2 separate regions of the Homo sapiens genome follow, and region 1 is linked to region 2. The links come from fine-mapping of genetic effects on gene expression. A gene starts in region 2. The other region holds a variant in brackets. All regions are shown on one strand. Distances are from middle to middle.

Region 1 (9,859 bases), 30 kb after region 2:
GGATGTGGGAGGAGTTCTGAGGAGGTGGGAGGAATTCCCAGGAGGTGGGAGAAGTTCTGAGGAGGGAGGAGGAGAGAGGCATCCTAGGTCAAGCCAGAAAGAAGAGTGGTGAAATTGCTTCCTGATTCCTCCTTGGTGACTCTGAGGTTAGAGAGGAAGCTAAACTCTGAAGCCCACCTTATATACGGAAGATGATCTGGGGTCTGTGGCATTCCAGGTCCTGCTCTCTCCCTAGGCCATCACTTCAGATCTGCAATGGACTTTGTATGTCAGCCATGATAAACCAAGGCCATACCAGTTTTCTATTTGGTCCTCAAATGTACCAAACTCTTTCCTGCCCCAGGGACTTTGCGTATGTTGTCTCCTATACCTGGAATATATGTTTTCCAAGCCTCTGTCTCTGAGACTCGGATGAAATGTCATTTCCTCAGACTGGCCTTTCCTGACCACTCCACTTGCCCCTCCCACCCTTAGTCTGCATTATGCCCCCTAGTATTTTCTCCCCCAGTTTCCCGTTCTTTTCCTTATCTCACTCTGAAGCTGTGGGCTCCTTTGATGAACACATACCCTCCACAGGGCAGGAATCCTGCTGTTTATCAATTTGGTACACACTGCCCCTTGCACACAGCAAGTGCACAAAAAGCATTTGTTAAATATGTATAGAAGCAATACCAGGCCCCAAGACAGTGGCCCTGCCTGTGATATAGTGGGAAGACAGATAAACACGTACTTAAGACCAGGGTTGGGTCCTCCTGGGACCAGGACTTTAGGAACGCTGGGATTAATTACCAAAGGGAGCAACAGAGACATTTGACATAGTTGGTTTTGTAGTAGTAGGAAGGCCGCTGAACAGCAGAGGGAAGGTGTGGGAGTTACAGAAGAAAGGAACTCTGGGTAACAGACTGCACTACTGCACTCCAACCTGGGTAACAGAGTTTTTGACCCTATCGCAATATATATATATATATACATACATACATACATACACACACACACACACTCACTCATGTGTGTATGTATGTATGTATATGTGTGTATATATATGTGTGTATACGTGTGTGTGTGTGTGCATACATACATACATATATATATATATATATATATATATATATATATATATGGCGTGACAGGATCAAAAAACTCTGTTACCCAGGTTGGAGTACAGTAGTGCACAATCATGACTCACTGTAGCCTTGAACTCCTGGCTCAAGCCATCCTCCTGCCACAGCCTCCCGAGTAGCTGGAACTATAGGCACACGCCACCACACCTGGCTCATTTTGTATCTTTTGTAACGACAGTCCCACTACATTGCCTAGGCTGGTCTTGAGCTGGGCTCAAGTGATCCTCCCACCTCGGACTCTTCAAGTGCTGGGATTACGGGCGTGAGCCACTGCACCTGGCCTCGCACTGGTTTGCTGGACATACGAATCAAGCAAACCTTGATTGAGGGGACTGGGCTGTAGCCTGATAAGAGTCATCTCTATGTGTGTGTGGTGTGTGTATGGTGTGTGTGGGGGTTGTGTGTGAGGGTTGTGTGAGGTATGTGGGTGTGGTGTGTGGGTGTCGTGTGTGGGGGGGTTGTGTGTGGGGTGTGTATGTGGGGTGTATGTGTAGGGGGTGTGTGGTGTGCATGTAGTATGGGGGGTGTGTGGTGTATGTGTGGTGTGTGTGTAGTGTGGGGGGGTGTGGTGTGTGTGTAGTGTGTGTGTGGGGTGTGGTGGTGGTAGTGGGGTGTGTGGGTGTGTGTGTGTGTGCACGCGCATGTGCGTGCGCTGCTTAACCTGGTCAAGGGGATCCATGAGTAAAAGTTTTTAATAGAATTGCTTTCCTTTGTAATCCTACATCCCTTTATTTTACGTATTTAAAATCAATATTTTGAAGTCTATTTAAAAAACAAATGCACAGTATTTTGGTGAGGGGTCTATAGGCTTCACCAGATGACCAAAGGGGTTCACTGCACAACCAAACTGAAGGGACCCTGTGTACAGAACCCCAACACAGAGTAAAGTAACCCCAAAGCCTCCATTCGGTGGCAGCATCACTGTGCTGAAGGTCTGACTGGCTCTGGGAAGCAACCAGTGCCAGGCCCAGAAAGCATGGAAGACGAATGGGCTGCTTCCCCAGCAGCATGTGCAAGGGAAACCCCTGTGAGCACCCCCTCTGCTGCCAAACCCAGCACTGCAGCCACATGGTTGGGCAAGGGCATGAAGCGGGAGCCAAGACTAAGCAGCTAAAATAAGGGAAGGAGATGAGACTAGCAGGATTCCCAGCTTGTGGATTTCTGGTAGGCCCATGTGAAAGGCTCTGGCCATTAGAAACCAGTCTTGTTGGGCACACTCATTACCTTCTCATAATACTGGATGTTCTTGTCAGCCATCCCCATGAGTAGCTGCCGGAAGTCCTGCCTCTTGTTGTTCTGCCACCTCTCCATGTCAGCTTTCAGGTCAGCATTGAAACACTCCATCCGATCCTGACATTTCTCGACGTCCGCCGGTACCTGGAAAAGGGAGGCACACATGGGTGCCCTGCACACAAAACTGGCATCTCTTGCCTTGAGCTCCTCTGAGCACACATTTGTCAAAGGCCAAAGCCCTACATTAAAATGCTATCAACACGCTCCCTCCTCTGGAGGCATTTATTTGAAAGCAAAACCTTGGGTTTTCAGGTCTAAGGAGGAGCTCTGAAAAGGGGCTCTCCTAACCCAGATCTTCAAACCCATCCAAACACAACAGAGACTCGTGGGGGAAACACCCCCATTTACACACAGGAAGAAGAAACATTGCAATTCAGACTCATATGTCTTTGGTTCCTTTTAGGATTTACTCATCCACACTTGAAAGTGTGTGCAGACTTTGCAAATATACAGCATTTGTATTGCCCTGCTATTCTCCTGTGTCCCATATTGGAACTAGAGAAGAGGTAGGTTCTCCCAGATCACATGAACTATTCCATTGCTGTGACATTTGATGATGCCTTTCCTCATTAATCAGAGAATTGCAATAAGACAACTACTGGCCAGCTGCCTCCTCTGAACCCCACATCATAAATAAACTGGAGGCTTGTTTATGCTTTTCCCAATAGCAGATACTTTTAAATGGAGAGTTAGAGAAGTCTGAGAAAACAGGAGGAAAGTTACTTATGCATGTCAAAAAAATTTGAAATTCAAAGAAGAAATATACAGCAGGCTATTTCAAGTTTTTCTTAAAGAGGTTTAGAAGACTTTCTCAAAAGGGAACTATGTCACTTGAAGTTTCACAACTTTCACTTTGCTTTGGTGAATTTCACCATCCTGTGCAGCTGGAGTTTGGGCTTTGTGGCTGCAGCGCTTCCCAAAGCTGGCTTCTCTCTCCTAACTCAAGCACTTCACTGAGCCCTGATGGCGGCCAGGGAGCCGACAGGCCCAAAGCCAGGTCAAACCCCCGACCTGCCAAATGTATCCCAACCACAAGTGAGGCCTTTTATGTTTGGTGTGCTGGGGCCCATGAACCAAACTGTCTCCAAGCCATGGCTCACCCCTGGGAGTCCACTTCCACCAATCGAGGAGGTTTATACCCAAGCCTCGTGGACAAGGAGCTGACCCAGAATGATGCCAATGAGAAAGACAGGCCTGAGGGAGCTGGACACCTTCAGGGTACTCAGCCATCTTCTCCACAGACCACGTGGAGATGGTTGTAGAACACAGGAGTCAGGGAAGAGACATGGCCAAGGCAAGTGAATTTGAATGTGCCTGACACGGGAACTAGACATGGGTGAAACCAGGATGAGCTGGAGAGAGAGATAACTAGACACTCTGGAAATTTAAAAGCAAGGAATTTTTCTGTTAAGATGGGGAAAGAGGCCTTCTTCAAAGCACATAAGCTTCTGGAAGAGGGAAAAAAAAAATACTGGGCTGAGTGCAGTGGTTCATGCCTCCCAGCACTTTGGGAGGCCAAGGCAGAAGATCACTGGAGGTCAGGAATTTGAGACCAGCCTGGGCAACATAGTAAGACCCCCATCTCTA[C/T]AATAAGTAGGATGTGGTGGCGCTATGTTGTCCAGGCTGGTCTCGAACTCCTGGCCTCCAGTGATCCTCCCACCTCGGTCCCCCAAAGCACTGGAATTACAGGTTTGAGCCACCATACCAGGTCAGAGACTGACTTTTTCTTCTGATGCCATGATTTAAGTCTCTTTTGCCTCCTCCCAAGACCACCCATTACTATTGGTTACCTCAGGAAAAACTGAAATAAAAACCAGAGTATCCCAGTCTTGCCTCTCCAGAGTCACTCCAGGAATCAGCCTCAATGGAAAGATGCCCAGCGAGCCAGTGTCTCTGGCTGGCCTCACCTCCCCACAGGCACAGGCCAGTTCCCTTACCCGTCTCCTGGCCACTGCTCACACTTGCATTGGGGTGAGGGTGCCTATGAGCAACTTCCTGTTTGCTTAACGAAACTTCTGCTGTGAGGAGAAAATGGAAAGCCCTGGAAAGAGAACCTCACCAGGACACGTGGAGAGGAGGGCAGCCAGGGTCTCTGAATCAGGACTGTTCACAGAGGAAAGATTCCCAGGTTTAAAGATTCCCAGGTGTGTTCTGGAGATGGGAACTCTGACTGACCCAGAAAAATCAGGGTCTAAACCACGGCTGTGGGTTTTAGGACTGCCTGAGCCTCGGTCTGGGAAATATTTGGCTTCTCAGTTTCACAACACATTCTGTGCTTGGCACTGAGGAATACAAAAGTGCTTGGGTCTCAACAGACAAATCTTGTCTCCCGTAACCTACAGTCTAGTTGGGAAGAAACAGGAACATGCCTAGACACTGAGGCAAGATATCGTAAGTGTTGTCGCTTCCCCTGCAGCCCCCGTGATAAGCACGCTGAGGAGGATGGAGGGGGCGGCCAACCTGGGAAGATCGGGCCTCATGGAGGAAACAGCACTGAGGCGGCTCTTTAAAGATGACAGATGTGAGATGTTTGACCACTTGGAAGGCACTCCAGAGTGGCGGTACACACAAGGGACAGAGGAGAGAAGACACCAGGACCCACCGCAGGAATTGTGCACAGGCCACAGGGCCCACAGCGGCACGGAGAGGGAACTGCAGCTCGCAAGACTGGCAGAGGGTGGCAGGGGATGAGGAACCTGAGGCTCGTCCCAAAGTCCTGCTTTCCTGAGGCCCAGTTAACTCATGCCCACTCTTGGAGAATAGAAAAAGCCCCACACTTCCTCCAGCTGCAGTGGACAGCTCTAGAACCAAACTTCCAGAGCTTAGCTTGCACACCCCACCTGCCACTTACCAGGTGTGTGGCCTGGGACCTGGCCTCAGCTTCTCTGTCTGGCTAATAATATCCTCCGCCTCACTAGGCTGTCATGAGGCCAGACAGGCTAATATGTGTTAAGTGCTTTACAGCGTCCTAATTAGGAAGGGGGAGTTGGGCTGACAGGACCAAGGGAAAGCAAAAAGAGAAGGCAGATTAAGCTATACTTCTGCTTTTCTTCATGGTCCAGGACACATAGCCTTCCTGCACAAATATTAATAACACAATCTTCCTGCACCCAGCTATCACCAGACCCTCAGTTAATAGAAAAATGCAAGTTTGCTCACTGCGACCTTGGAGTTATCAGCACTGCATGAAGCCCTCTTCAGTACACAGCACGAGCACCATTCTATGAAATCCCCAGCAAGCCTTTGTTTCTGGGCAGTCAGCTCCCTTCCTGCTGATCTGCCTGTTGCACTCTTGCAATGTATTTTCCTACTTTTTCTAATAAATCTGTTTTTCTTTACCTATAATTGTCTTGGTAAATTCTTCTTACCCCTGCAACACTGGTTCCAGAGAGTCATTGCACACCTGTGACACACTTGTGCCTGGCATATAGTAAGTGCTCAATAAACATTTGTTAGCTCATATCAGTATCAATATTATAATTTGCTGTTCACAAAAGATAATCTATCCCTTGCACAGCTCCTCAAGCTTTATTCCATGTGTTATAAAACAGGTTTTCATCTTCCAAATACAAACTATATTATTATATGTTCTCCCAAACATTATGCCACCCTTTGCCAATGCTACTCCACCCTGAGATTTCATTAGACACCAGAGATGAATCATCTCCAAACTACATATTAGCATGAGATTGCACTGGGCATCCTGGAACTGGGGTTGTGGCTCTAACACCAGAAGGGAGAGGATGGAGTAAACCAACCTGGTGGAGACAGAACTGACAGATTTGGCAACTGGCTGCCCATGAGAAATAAAATACAGGGAGTCCGAGAGAAGCCTGAAGTTTCTAGTCTGGATGACTAGGGTGGCACTAATGCCACCAAAGGCTCAGAATGAAGGACAGGTCCACAGATCACAGAAAGGAGGGAGTTGCAGCCAGGGGAAGAGTGATGCCTCCCTCCACAAAGCGGGGTGAGATAACAAGAAAACCAAACACAGCTCTTTTATAAAGGCTTATGGAAAAGAATACACAACCAAATTTAAAAATGAGCAAAGGACTTAAACGTATCTCCAAAGAAGATAAACAGTCAGCTGGGCGCAGTGGCTCACGCCTGTAATCCCAGCACTTTGGGAGCCTGAGGCGGGCAGATCACAAGGTCAAGAGATCGAGACCACCCTGGCCAACACGGTGAAACCCTGTCTGTACTGAAAATACAATAAAATTAGCTGGGCATGGTGGTGTGCTCCTGTAGTCTCAACTACTTAGGAGGCTGAGGCAGGAGAATTGCTTGATCCAGGGAGGTGGAGGTTGCAGTGAGCCGAGATCACGCCACTGCACTCCAGCCTGGCGACAGAGCGAGACTCCATCTCAAAAAAATAAAAATAAAGAAGATAAACAGTCAACAAGGACATGAAAAGATGCTCAACATCATAATCACTAGTGAAATGCTAATCAAAGCCACAGTGAGATAGCACCTCACACTCATCAGGATGGCTACTATTAAAAAAAATAACAAAAACAGAAAATAGGCCAGGTGCAGCGGCTCACACCTGTAATCCCAGCACTTCAGGAGGCCAAGGCAAGTGGATCACCTGAGGTCAGGAGTTCGAGACCAGCCTGGCTGGTCTCCGGGAGGCGGAGATTGCAGTGAGCCAAGATCACGCCACTGCACTCTAGCCTGGGCGACAGAGAAAGACTCTGTCTCAAAAAAATAGATAAGCGTTGGTAAGAACATAGGGAAACTAGAACCCTTGTACATTGTTGGTGGATTGTAAAACAGTATAGCTGCTATGGAAAACAGTATGGAGATTCCTCAAAAATTTTAAAATAGAACTACTATATGATCCTGCTGGATTCCACTTCTGAGTACATATCCAAAGAAATTGAAAGCAGGGTCTCAGAGATACTTGTATACACATGTTTATAGCAGCATTATTCACAGTAGCCCAAAGATGAAAGCAACACAGATGTCCACTGATGAATGGATAAACAAAATGTGGTATGTATATGTATGTGTATGTATGTATGTGTGTGTATGTCCCATATATATGGGATATTATTCAGCCTCAAAAAGGAAGGGAATTCTAACACATTACAACATGGATAAACCAAGGACATTACACTGAGTGAAATAAGCCAGTCACAGGATAAATATTATATTATTCTAGATACGAGGTATCTAGAATGGTCAAAGTCATAGAGACAGAAAGTAGAACAGGGGTTTCTAGAGGCCGGCAGGAGGGGGAATGGAGAGTTGTTTAATGGGTCAGAGTTTCAGTTCTGCAAGATGAAAAGAGTTCCAGATATCGATTGCACAACAATGTAAATGTGCTTAACACGACTAAGCTGTACACTTTTAAATGGTTAAGATGGCAAATTTTATATTCTGTATATTTTACCACAGTATAATCTTGTTTAAATATATGGAGGGAAAGGTGGGGCTGAGGGAGGCAGGGCCCAAGGTTTGAACTCACAGAGAAGCCAGCATGTGTAGGGTTAATAAAGGACTCAGCAAAAGTCACTCGGGAAGGCAGAAAGGCGGGCACAGAAAGAGGAGGTGGTGAATCAGAGAGAACAGAGCCAGAGAAGCCCAGGGGTGGTAGGAGTTAGAAGAGGATGGAAGAATTAAAAAGAGGAACTGGGGTGAGCTGTCTGTGACCAGCTTGTGAAGTTCCCCAACTTGAAGAAGGGGAGCGCTGGCAACTCATGCTCAGGCATGTATTCTTCCACCTTTGATTTTTTGGATAGTGTCTTTGTAACTATCAATTCACTGACCAGTAACACTAAGCATTCTTTTTACTTTTATTTTTTATTTATTTTTGAGACAGGTCTTGCTCTGTTTCCCAGGCTGGAGTGCAGTGGCACAATCACAGCTCACTGTAGCCTCAATCTCCCAAGTTCAAGCGATCCTCCTGCCTCAGCCTCCCGAGTAGCTGTAACTACAGATGCACACCATCACACCCAGCTAATATTTTTATCTGGAGTAGAGGCGAGGTCTTGCTACCTTGCCCAGGCTGGTCTCGAACTCCTGAGCTCAGGCGATCTTCCTGTCTTGGCCTCCCAGAGTGCTGAGATAATAACAGGTGTGGGCCACCACCCTCAGCATTTCCTCTTATCTCAATGTTTTAATTTTCGTGACTGAGGTATTGTTACGGTTGTGCTACCATGCGTCTGAAGGATGTTGACATGGCACAGCACTGCTAATGGTTGGGTGTTGCTTATCATGACACCAAGGAAAAATATCACCAGATAAGACCTCAAAAGATAAAAATTTATACAGAGGTGACAAAATTGCATTTTTCACCTTGGTTCCCAATCTCTCATGAGAATTTCCATTACAGAATATAGGTTGTTAGTGCAATGACAGAAGAGTCACGTGGATGGGACTGTGCATTTCTGTGTGCTGGGGAACGGGACAGTAACTTAAATTCACTCAACATTCATTTAAAAACGCATTACTCAGTGAGCCGAGATTGAGCCACTGCACTCCAGCCTGGCAACAGAGCAATAAATAAATAGATAGATGGATGGATGGATGGTTGGATGGATGGATGGATGGATGGATGCATGCATGCATGCGTTACTGAGCTCCTTCCATGTGCCACGCATTTCCAGGCCCTAGAACAGAAATCTCAACTTAAGTCTCCTTCTTGGAGCTGGGTTGGAGATGTCACATTATCTGCTCTCATGATGATAGTAGGTTAGGAAAATCCCCAAAGACTACACAAGACAGATATAATCCCAAAGTGTGGAGGAAAGGGGAGCTCGTGGCTGCTGTAGGACAGGCTCCAGGACCAGTGACAGCCACACGCTGCTGAGTGAGCAGGGGACAGGGCTCCCTAACTGGCAATGTGTGAGTGGCAGAGAGATTGGTCCTCTGCCCTCTGGGAAGCCAGAGCCCCCAGGCTGGTCACCTCCAGCTTCCAGCAACTGCGTTTTCAGTGTCTATTTGAGCTGTGAGGTGAAAACAGGTAAGAAAACACTGATACAGGGTCAAGTCTGAAAAGAGGCCATGGAATTGGGCAAATAGAAAGTCAGTGGCTCTCTGAATGAATGCTTTTTTAATTATAGATAAAAACAAACTTCAGAGAATGGTCAGTGGGGAGTGAGGGAGGGAGAGGTGAGGGCATGAGATGAGGAGCAGAGAGGCTGACAGCAAGAGATCCTCGAGCTTGCCTGCGCAATGACACGAGAGTGAAGCCCCAGGGAAGGCCACACGCACTCTCCGTGCCTGCCTCGGGAAAGGCAGGGCGCCCCCTCAGGGAGCACAGCTGCTGGGGCCCGCGCCCTGGGGAAAGGCACCAGTTTTGGAGCCAGATGCACTTGGACTCCATACCGGCTCCACCATTTGTTGACTTTGGCACTTAAGTTCCACGCTTCCCCTGACCCCGGGCCCCCATCTGTCACATGGAAACCACCGCACTGGCAGAGGGTGGCTGCGGTGGGACT
Region 2 (9,859 bases):
AAAAACAGTGTGAAACGTGGACAAAGACCCCACAGACAAAAAAGAAAAAAAAAACTGCTCTTTCACATACCATATACCACACACTATACCTCATTAACACCTTGTAGAGCAGGATTTTGGTAAGACTTTTGAGCCCACTTAGATGAGTTTAAAAAGAAAGTAAGAAATTGAAAAAAAGAAAAGAAAACCAAAGTTTCCTCTATCTGCGTCCTGATTTGCATTAGAGTTATTTCCTTGTAGGGAAGGGAAACCACACAAAAAAACATAGGCTAGTAAGGTCATTCAGGTTGATAGCAGAGCCTGGGGTGGAGAGAAATTCCTTGATAAAAGAGGAGACATGGCCTGGCTTCAGTGACTTCGTGTGTAAAACAGAGCATATAGTGTTAACTTGAGTGCCTTTTGATAACTCTTCAGACTAAAAGATCCTTAAGGGCAAAGGAATTTGCATCCCTCATACCTATTGGTGGGCCTGATACTCAATAAGTGCTTAAAGATTAACAAAGGGATGGATGGATAGATGATGCATTGGATGGATGATGGGTGGATGGATGGATGGATGGATGGATGGATGGATGGATGGGTGAATGGGTGGATGGATGGATGGATGGGTGATAGGTGGGTAGATGGATAGATGGATGGATGGATAACGTGTGGGTGGTGGACAGATGAATGGATGATGGGTGGGTGGATGGATGGATGATGGGTGGGTTGATGGGTAGATGGATGGATGATGGGTGGGTGGATGGATGGATGGGTGGATGGGTGGGTGGATGGGTAGATGGATAATGGGTGGGTGGATGGATGGATTAATAATGGGTTGGTGGATGAATAGACAGATGGATGATGGGTGGGTGGGTGGATGGAAGGGTAGAAGGGTGAATGGGTAGATGGATGGATGGATGAATGATGGGTGGGTGGGTGGATGGATGGGTAGATAGATGGATGGATGATGGGTGGGTGGGTGGATGGATGGATAGATGTGTGGGTAGATGGATGGATGATGGGTGGGTAAATGGGTGGATGGACAGATGATGAATGAGTAAACGAACAAACTAACCACTGAGTTTGAAAATATCTTAGATAGAAATATAGGCTCACAATATTTGGTGGGAAACATTCAACAACCAAACACCTTCTTAAAATGCACCCCTTCTACTCAATTACCTCAGAAATGAAGCACTGTGAAAATAGATAGATTCTGAAGTCACACAACCCTAAGTACCTGGCTCTGTGTGACCTTGTGCAAGTGATTTAGCTACCCTAAGTCAAAGTTTCTATAAAACTGGGCAATGTTAGGGTGCCACCTCTGAGGGAAAAGCCCAATGAAACAATATTCCAAGGGCATCCATGGGTGGCAGTCATTATTTTGATGAATTTACTGTGGACAGGGCCTGACTCTCAGTCTAACCGTAATATACTTCATTTCATCAGTATACGGGGAGGGAAGCCATTTCCCAGATTCAGACCCAGAAAGGCTGATACATAAACTAGAACGCTAATTTATTAATTTATCAGGGGAAATTATTTGGAGACTCAAAGTAACTAGCACATTTTCTCCCTGTTTGCAACTATAATGGGGAAGTAAAACCACAATCAGAAAGTTCTCAAGGTCAGGCAAAGAGACTTGGGCAACATCTTGCATGTAGTGATGAGACAGTCATTGGGAAACACTTGAAATAAAGTCCTTGGTGGTCACTGACAAGATTTGTCTCTGTCTTCTTGAATGAGTTTATACATCTTTACTTTTTTCTACTATATATTAATGCTTGAGGGGGTATCTTATTTTCCTTGCTCCCAATTTTTGAGGGAAAGGCTTACCACAGCCCCTGAAATATTAACAATAAAGAGAGACGGTCTCTTTCTGTTGCCCAGGCTGGAGTGAAGTGGTGCAATCATAGCTCACTGGAGCCTCAAACTCCCGGGCTCAAGCTATCCTTCCACCCCAGCCTCCCAAATACCTGGGACTACAGGTATGCACCACTATGCCCAGCTAATTTTTAAGTTTTTTCTGTAGAGACGGTCTCACTGCATTGCCCAGGATGCCTAGCCTGGTCTCAAACTCCTGGCTTCAGGCACTCCTCCTGCCTTGGCCTTCCCCATCAGTGTAGTCTGCACATTAGCTGAAGGGTCTCTCTGCCCCTCAGGATCTGGGTCAGATGGCTTAACTCCCCAATCTCATAGCCTGTGAAAGTCCAAAGCCTATTCCAGATTTCAGTGAATCCTTGGGAGATTTGTGTTCTCATGGCTTCCTTTTCCTCCCTTGTGGTCTCTGCTCAGCATTATGTCAATCCAGAGATGAATCATAGCTTCCTCAGCAGTTTCTACCAAAATAAAAAACAAAAAAAAAATGCCACTTGCACAAAACATTTATGAATAAACTTTTCTAAAGAACTCAGGAAGGCCAGGTGCAGTGATTCACACCTGTAATCCCAGCACTTTGGGAGGCTGATGTGGGAGGATCGCTTGAAGCCAAGGGTTTGAGACCAATCTGAGCAACCTGGATAACATAGTGAGATGCTGTTTTTACCAGAAAAAAAATTAAAATTAAAATTAACTGGGTGCAGTGGTGCATGCCTGTAGCCCCAATTACTTGGGAGGCTGGAGCAGGAGGATTGGCTGAGCCCGGGAATTTGAGGTTCTAGTGAGCTTTGATCGCAACACTGCACTCCAGCCTGAGCAACAGAAGCAAGACCCTGTCTAAAAAAAAAAAAGAAAGAAAAGAAAAAAAGAAAGAAAAAGAAATTAAGAACTGAGGAGCAAAGGGAGGTCACACTAAGGATTCACATGTACATGATACAGTAAGATGTTTAAAATCCACACTAGACATTCTTATTCTTCAAAAGTTCCTTCAGACCACCCTGACGCCAAGAGTTCTAGTCCTGACCCTTCTCACCAATACCTGCTGATCTTACTTCCTCCCTGAACTTCTTTCCCCTCTCTTCTCCCTCCTTGGTTCTCTCTCTCACCCTTCCCTCTCGTTGACTCAAGCATAAAGGTTCCGCCCCCTCTCTGGAACCTCCTCCACAGCTGGAATCCTCAGACCTGAGAATTTCACTCTCTAACACTGACCAAAGGTGTTTTTCAAAGACTGTTCCTTTCTAAGATGAATTTAGGGGCTATGAATTTTGTTAAGAAAACAAAAGTATTCCTTGCCTGAGTGTAAAGTGCCTGGGATATAGGTTCAACAGATAATCTATCCACTCTCTTGTTCCTATTTATGCAATACATTGTTGATCAACAATAATCACAACATGATTGTGTTGTTTCTACTCCTCTCCACATTCCAATGTGGGTTAAGAGGACATCCTCAAATAAAAATTTCTGGCAACTGTATTTTCCCCATAGCTGTAGGCTTGCAAAGACTGTCTGATGCCAAATACTAGTTTCCTGATTTACTGGCCTTGTGATCTTGTGCAAATTTCCTAACCTCTCTGGTTTCAGTATCTCAGTCTGTAAAAATGGGGTGATAGATCAGCTCACAGACTTCTCGGGAGGATTAAATTCATTCACGTAAAATGCTTAGTACATAATAAGGGCTCAAAAAATATTAGTTGCTACTGTTTTTTTTCTTAGTTCCTTTCTTCTGGAATAGTGTGATTTTATCAATCTAAACATCAGAGATTTAGTACTTGCACTTTAATGAAGCCAACCTTGCACTGGAGACTAGATTCTATCTTGAAGTGGCAAGGTCAGGGCTCTACTTGCTGGTAGCCTGGGCTGCAGAGGATGACCAGGTGCTAGCTCACCTGGGGCCTGCATTCAGAGATGGAGCAAGAAGTGGGGACATGATGAGAATATAATCCAACCCACAGTAGCCTAAACTGGGAGAGACACTGACTACCCTGAGTCTTGTTCATTTCCAGGCCAGAGAACTCAGAAGCCTGGGGGTTCCTAGGGCTGACTAGCATCCTAATAACCCAGCTCCTACTAGATCTGTTCTAGATCTGATGTGACTCTCTCAGAGACCCTTCAAATGTCCCTGGTTTCCCAAGACAATGGGAAGAACTGAAATACCACAGACCCTCCCAGAGATGACAAGGGCTGCCCCCTACAGTCTAGAGCCCTAGAATGCACAGACTCCTTGATCAAGTGGCCAGAGTGGTCCATCTGGGTCAGGTTGTTCTCATGGCCATATTTGATTGTGGAATACCACCTGGCCCCATAACCTACTCATTCACTGGAGTCTCCACCCCTCATAGGATCAAGGTGTTTGGACTGTTTGCTGTAGCCTCTGGAAAAATTAAGAATGGAGTGGGAGAGCCAGGCTTGGGTTGGGTGAAACATGTATCTCCCAAGGTGACCCTAGGTGAGGGGGAGGAAGAAGGAAATGGGCTGCTGGGCCAGATCCATGGGGCACATCTTGAAGGGCAAGACTAGGTGTGTCTTTCTCTTTGCAGAAGGCAGAGTCGTCTGGGCCTAGACACGAGGAGGCTGGGCCATGCTGGAGGTTGAGGGTGGCAGGGGAGGAGATTATAGCCCACCTAAACACTACCAAAAGAGCACATAGATACACTAAATCATTTGGAATCCAGTCCCTACTCCCTACATGAGTATATTATCCATGTGGCATTTTAAGCTCTCCCTGCATACCTGCGTCTCCCTTTCATGTCTTTGGGTTCCTGATCATCCACGCTGCCAGAGCTATAGTGGATTGTGGGTAGAGGGACAGGAAGGCTGTGTGCTTTGAGTCTCCATCCCTGGGGCTGACCATGGAACAGGTCATGCTCTGTGGTACATTTTGGCCCCTGCACCATCCATCACCCTGGTTTTCTTTGCAGAAGTATGTACCTAAACAAGAAGCGAGGCCACCTGGGAAGTGGAGGTCTCAGCCCAGCCCAGGGGAGTGAGCCCACAGACAGAAGAAGAGTGACTACTAACAAGCAGAAAGGGACCTGGGCACTTGATTCAGATGAGGACCCTGGTGACTCTGCCCCTTCCAGTGGGCTCAAGCCCCTGCCCAAGAGTCCAGTTTTATCATCTAGGGGGACATCTAGGGCTGGCAGGATCTTGCCGTCTCTCCCTTGGCCCTGGGGTTTGGGGCAGGAGCCTTCTAGACAAGGCCCAGGCACTAGGCCCACCAATGCAGGTGTACCAAACAGGACTCTTCTCTAAGAGGCCTTTGGCTTGGAGAAGAGCCTGGACCTGGCGGCTCCCAAGTTTTTACTTCTCTCAAAGTGCTACCCAGCTGCCTATAGCACATGGGCCCCTGTTGCATTAAATCTATAAATAAAACTTCACACCCCAATACTTATCCTAGGCAGAATCCTAGGCGTCCCACCCCTCGCGCAAACCTGCCTTCCTGGGATGGGAGAATTTGGAAACGCTCCCTGAGCCAGTCCTGGGGAGCTTCCTTCCAGCCCCTGCCCCGGTGGTGGGGGGTCCGCAGAGATCCGCGGGAGGTCCGGGCACGCACGCCTGGCTGTGGGGAAATTCGGCCCCGTCAGGCGGCCGCGCTCACAGGAGCAGCGTGACCCGTCGGCCCCGGGGGTGCTGGCGCCAGGAGCCAGCACTCGCGGTGCGCTCCCCCGCGCCTGGCTTCCCTGGACTGTCGCCAGTCCTACTCTGCCTGAGGTGGCGAGGGCAGGGTGGAGCGCGGCCTTTTCTGGCCTGAGGAGGAGTCACTCGGGAGGTCACTCGGCTGCTGGGCGGGCTGCTGTCACAGGCGCTGCGTGCCCTGGCTCTGCTCGCCACTGGCCGGCGCGCTCCCGGCGCACGGAGCACACTCGCGCTCCCGGCGCACGGAGCACACTCGCGCTCCGGGACTGAAACCTGAGCAGCCGTAGCAGCCGAATTTGGGAGCATATCCTTGTCACTGCAGCCAGAAAGCCCTTCGATCCCCATCAGAGAGGTCACATGAGCCCCGAGGTCACCTGCCCGCGGAGGGGCCACCTGCCTCGCTTCCACCCGAGGACCTGGGTTGAGCCCGTGGTGGCCTCGTCCCAGGTGGCTGCCTCCCTCTACGATGCGGGGCTACTCCTCGTGGTGAAGGCGTCCTACGGAACCGGAGGCTCCTCCAACCACAGTGCCAGCCCATCGCCCCGGGGGGCTCTAGAGGACCAACAGCAGAGAGCCATCTCCAATTTCTACATTATCTACAACCTTGTGGTGGGCCTGTCCCCCCTGCTGTCCGCCTACGGGCTGGGATGGCTCAGCGACCGCTACCACCGAAAGATCTCCATCTGCATGTCGCTGCTGGGCTTCCTGCTCTCCCGCCTCGGGCTGCTGCTCAAGGTGCTGCTGGACTGGCCAGTGGAGGTGCTGTACGGGGCGGCGGCGCTGAACGGGCTATTCGGCGGCTTCTCCGCCTTCTGGTCCGGGGTCATGGCGCTGGGATCGCTGGGCTCCTCCGAGGGCCGCCGCTCTGTGCGCCTCATCCTCATTGACCTGATGCTGGGCTTGGCGGGGTTCTGCGGGAGCATGGCTTCCGGGCATCTCTTCAAGCAGATGGCTGGGCACTCTGGGCAGGGCCTGATACTGACGGCCTGCAGCGTGAGCTGTGCCTCGTTTGCCCTGCTCTACAGCCTTTTGGTGCTAAAGGTCCCTGAGTCGGTGGCCAAACCCAGCCAGGAGCTCCCCGCCGTGGATACCGTGTCTGGCACGGTTGGCACATACCGCACTCTGGATCCTGATCAGTTGGACCAACAGTATGCAGTGGGGCACCCTCCATCTCCTGGAAAAGCAAAACCCCATAAAACCACCATTGCCTTGCTCTTTGTGGGTGCTATCATATATGACCTGGCGGTGGTGGGCACAGTGGACGTGATCCCTCTTTTTGTGCTGAGGGAGCCTCTCGGTTGGAACCAAGTGCAGGTGGGCTATGGTATGGCTGCAGGGTACACCATCTTCATCACCAGCTTCCTGGGTGTCCTGGTCTTCTCCCGCTGCTTTCGGGACACCACCATGATCATGATTGGGATGGTCTCCTTTGGGTCAGGAGCCCTCCTCTTGGCTTTTGTGAAAGAGACATACATGTTCTATATTGGTGAGTCTGTCATTCTTGAGGAGGCAGGACATTGCTAGCCCTCTGCATCATGGGGCTGACACCAGGGATGCCATGGTCTGGGTGTCCTAGCTCAGCACCAGGGATTGAACCTGCTACCTAGGAGGCACAAGGGACACAAGATTATATGCCCCTGAGTTTATCTGTAATGTATTGTTAATTAATTATCTATATTGAGAATGAAATGTTACCAGAGTGGTGTTCATGGTTCTGGGCAGTCAAGGAGGTGTGGTCAGTGGTACCTGGAGTCAGTAGGGGAGGCTTCAGGATGGCCTTCAACAGAGGAGATGGAATTGGGTTTCTTCCCCCACACCCCCTTGCCATTTTAAAGGGATGGAATTTCAAAGGCCGAGCGCAGAGGCTCTCGCCTGTAATCCCAGCACTTTGGGCGGGAGGTGGGAGGATCACTTGAGGCCAGGAGTTCAAGACCAGCCTGGCCAATATAGCAAAACCTCATCTCTACCAAAAGCATAAAAATTAGCCAGGTGTGGTGGTGCACACCTGTAGTCCTAGCTACTCAGGAAGCTGAGGCACAAGAATCACTTGAACCCAAGAGGCAGCGGTTGTAGTGAGCCGAGATTGTGCCACTGCACTCTAGCCTGGGTGATAGAGCAAGACTCTGTCTCAAAAAAAAAAAAACAAACAAACAAAAAAAAAAAAACGTGGAGGAGTGGAATTTCAAGTAATTCTACTGAAAAGATCCCTTAATTAAAATCATTTGGAGTCAAGCAAGGGCTTTTTAAAAATGCATTAAAATACTCGGTAAATGCCTTCCACAACCAATGTAATAAATTCCCCAAGGAAGCAGCATTAAGTTTCCATCTGAGGGCACAAGTCAGACAACTATAAGCAGAAAGCTCGAGATGAATGCTCCAATAGAACTTTCTAGAATGATGGAAATAGTTGCTATCCATTCTGTCCAATACAGAAGCCACTGGCTCCATGTGGCTATTGAGCCGTTGAAATGTAGCTAGCGCAACTAAAGAACAGATTTTTAAATTTTATGTCATTGTATTTAATTTAAATAGTTATATGGGGCTAGTGGCTATCATATCAAAAAAACAACTTCAGACAGTTATCTGAGGCTGGCTCTTGGCCCAGGCAGGTCACACATCTTAGAAACACCTAACAAAATGGCAAGGTAACCTCTGGTCACTTCTCAATTAAACAGCATAGGACAGAGTACCCCCTTCCCCTTTTGCCCACCACCTCTCTCTGTGTCTCTCTTTGGGTTTTGTTTTGTTTTGTTTTGTTTTTGAGATGGAGTTTCACTCTTGTTGCCCAGGCTGGAGTGCGATGGTACGATCTCGGCTCACTGCAACTTCCACCTCCTGGGTTCAAGTGATTCCCCTGCCTCAGCCTCCCAAGTAGCTGGAATTATAGGCATGCACCACCACACCCAGCTAATTTTGTATTTCTAGTAGAGACAGGGTTTCACCATGTTGTTCAGGCTGGTCTCGAACTCCTGACCTCAGATGATCCACCCGCCTCGGCCTCCCAGAGTGCTAGGATTACAGGCGTGAGCCGCCACGCCTGGCTGTCTGTCTCTATCTGTCTCTCTTGTGCGTTCTCTCTCTCTCTCTCTCTCACACACACACACACACACACACACACACACACACTGCATCTGGATAATCAATAGAGCTTGAGAATAGAGCTTGAGAGCTATGCAGTGGATGCGTTCATGGGACACATTGCTGGAGGCAATTTGCCAAAGCTCCCGGGACTATCTCCCAGAGATGTTCATTAATGTCAAGGACAGACACTTCTCTCCTGGAGAAACAAAGAAAGGGGCCTTGTGTCACTTTGGTGGTACCAGTTCCACTTCCCTAGTAATCACTCAACTCCACCAGTAAAGACACATTTCACCATCTGTCACCATGTCAACTGTGCCCAGCCACCTTGCAGACTGATATGCAGCATACACAGCAGCATCAGAGCTCAGAGGGTCACAGACTGGTCAAGGGAGGGCGCTAGTGTGCCAGCAGAGAAATGACTTCCTCCAGGTCAAGCCACATTCGGATTGTGGGGAGATGGGGGTTCTAAGAGAGGCTTTTGATAATTTCCTCCTTGGCCCAGGCTGGGCTACAGCAAGGAGTGTTCTTGTGTGATCTCTTTCAGCTCGAGCCGTCATGCTGTTTGCTCTCATCCCCGTCACAACCATCCGATCAGCTATGTCCAAACTCATAAAGGGCTCCTCTTATGGTGAGTAGTGAACAGAATCTCTCTGGAATCTTCTGCCCGGGCTGTTTCAGAGCTGCTAAGCATGAGGCACAGACCTGCAGAAGGCACTTGAGACAGTTCCAGAAGCATCTTTGAAGACACTAGAAACACTGGTTTCCATCCAGGGCACAGAGAGTGGAGACGGGTATAGGAGTGACTTAGAAAGTCAGGCACTGAAAAGCCACAGTCAAAGAAGGATTCTATCGTCCACAGGCCTTGGGAAGATTCAACTAGATAGAGGCAGGATTCCTAGTGAATTGAGCCACACAAAGACTGAGAAGGCACCAGGTGCAGTGGCTCAATTCCTGTAATCCCAGTGCTTTGGGAGGCCGAGGTGAGAGGATCGCATGAGGCTGGGAGTTCAAGACCAGCCTGGACAACATAGTGAGACCCCCATCTCTAAACAAAAAAAATTAAAAATTAGCAGGGCATGGTGGCACATGCCTGTAGTCCCAGCTACTCGGGAGGCTGAGGCAGGAGGATTGCCTGAGCCCAGGAGTTTAAGGCTGCAGTGAGCCAGGATTGTGGCACTACACTCCAGCCTGGGCAACAGAGTAAGACTCTGTCTCTAAAAAAAGAGAGAGAGAGAGAGAGTAAGAAGGAAGGGTCCCCTAAGAACTCTCCAGAGACTCAGCT

Which allele goes with the higher level. Positions count from the first base shown, and alleles are read on the strand shown. Sizes are in standard deviations (SD) of each study's normalised expression.
With allele T in place of C in region 1, the expression in monocytes of the gene that starts at base 5,659 in region 2 is higher (large effect, 0.89 SD a copy in Kim-Hellmuth 2017).

What was found.
Region 1: its variant is fine-mapped to the expression of SLC46A2 in monocytes (Kim-Hellmuth 2017, PIP 0.95).

Annotation. Positions count from the first base shown.
Region 1 is chr9:112,856,886-112,866,744 of GRCh38, reverse strand. It overlaps SNX30 (sorting nexin family member 30), which reads right to left. Exons shown (of 9, transcript NM_001012994.2): 8 at 2,346-2,498. Among named protein-coding and RNA genes, the nearest start is that of SLC46A2, 29 kb to the left of the region's middle. RefSeq lists an enhancer at 1-30. The variant C/T (reference allele first, on the strand shown) is at 4,002.
Region 2 is chr9:112,886,676-112,896,534 of GRCh38, reverse strand. It overlaps SLC46A2 (solute carrier family 46 member 2), which reads left to right and starts at 5,659. Exons shown (of 4, transcript NM_033051.4): 1 at 5,659-6,982; 2 at 9,122-9,205. The coding sequence starts at 5,854.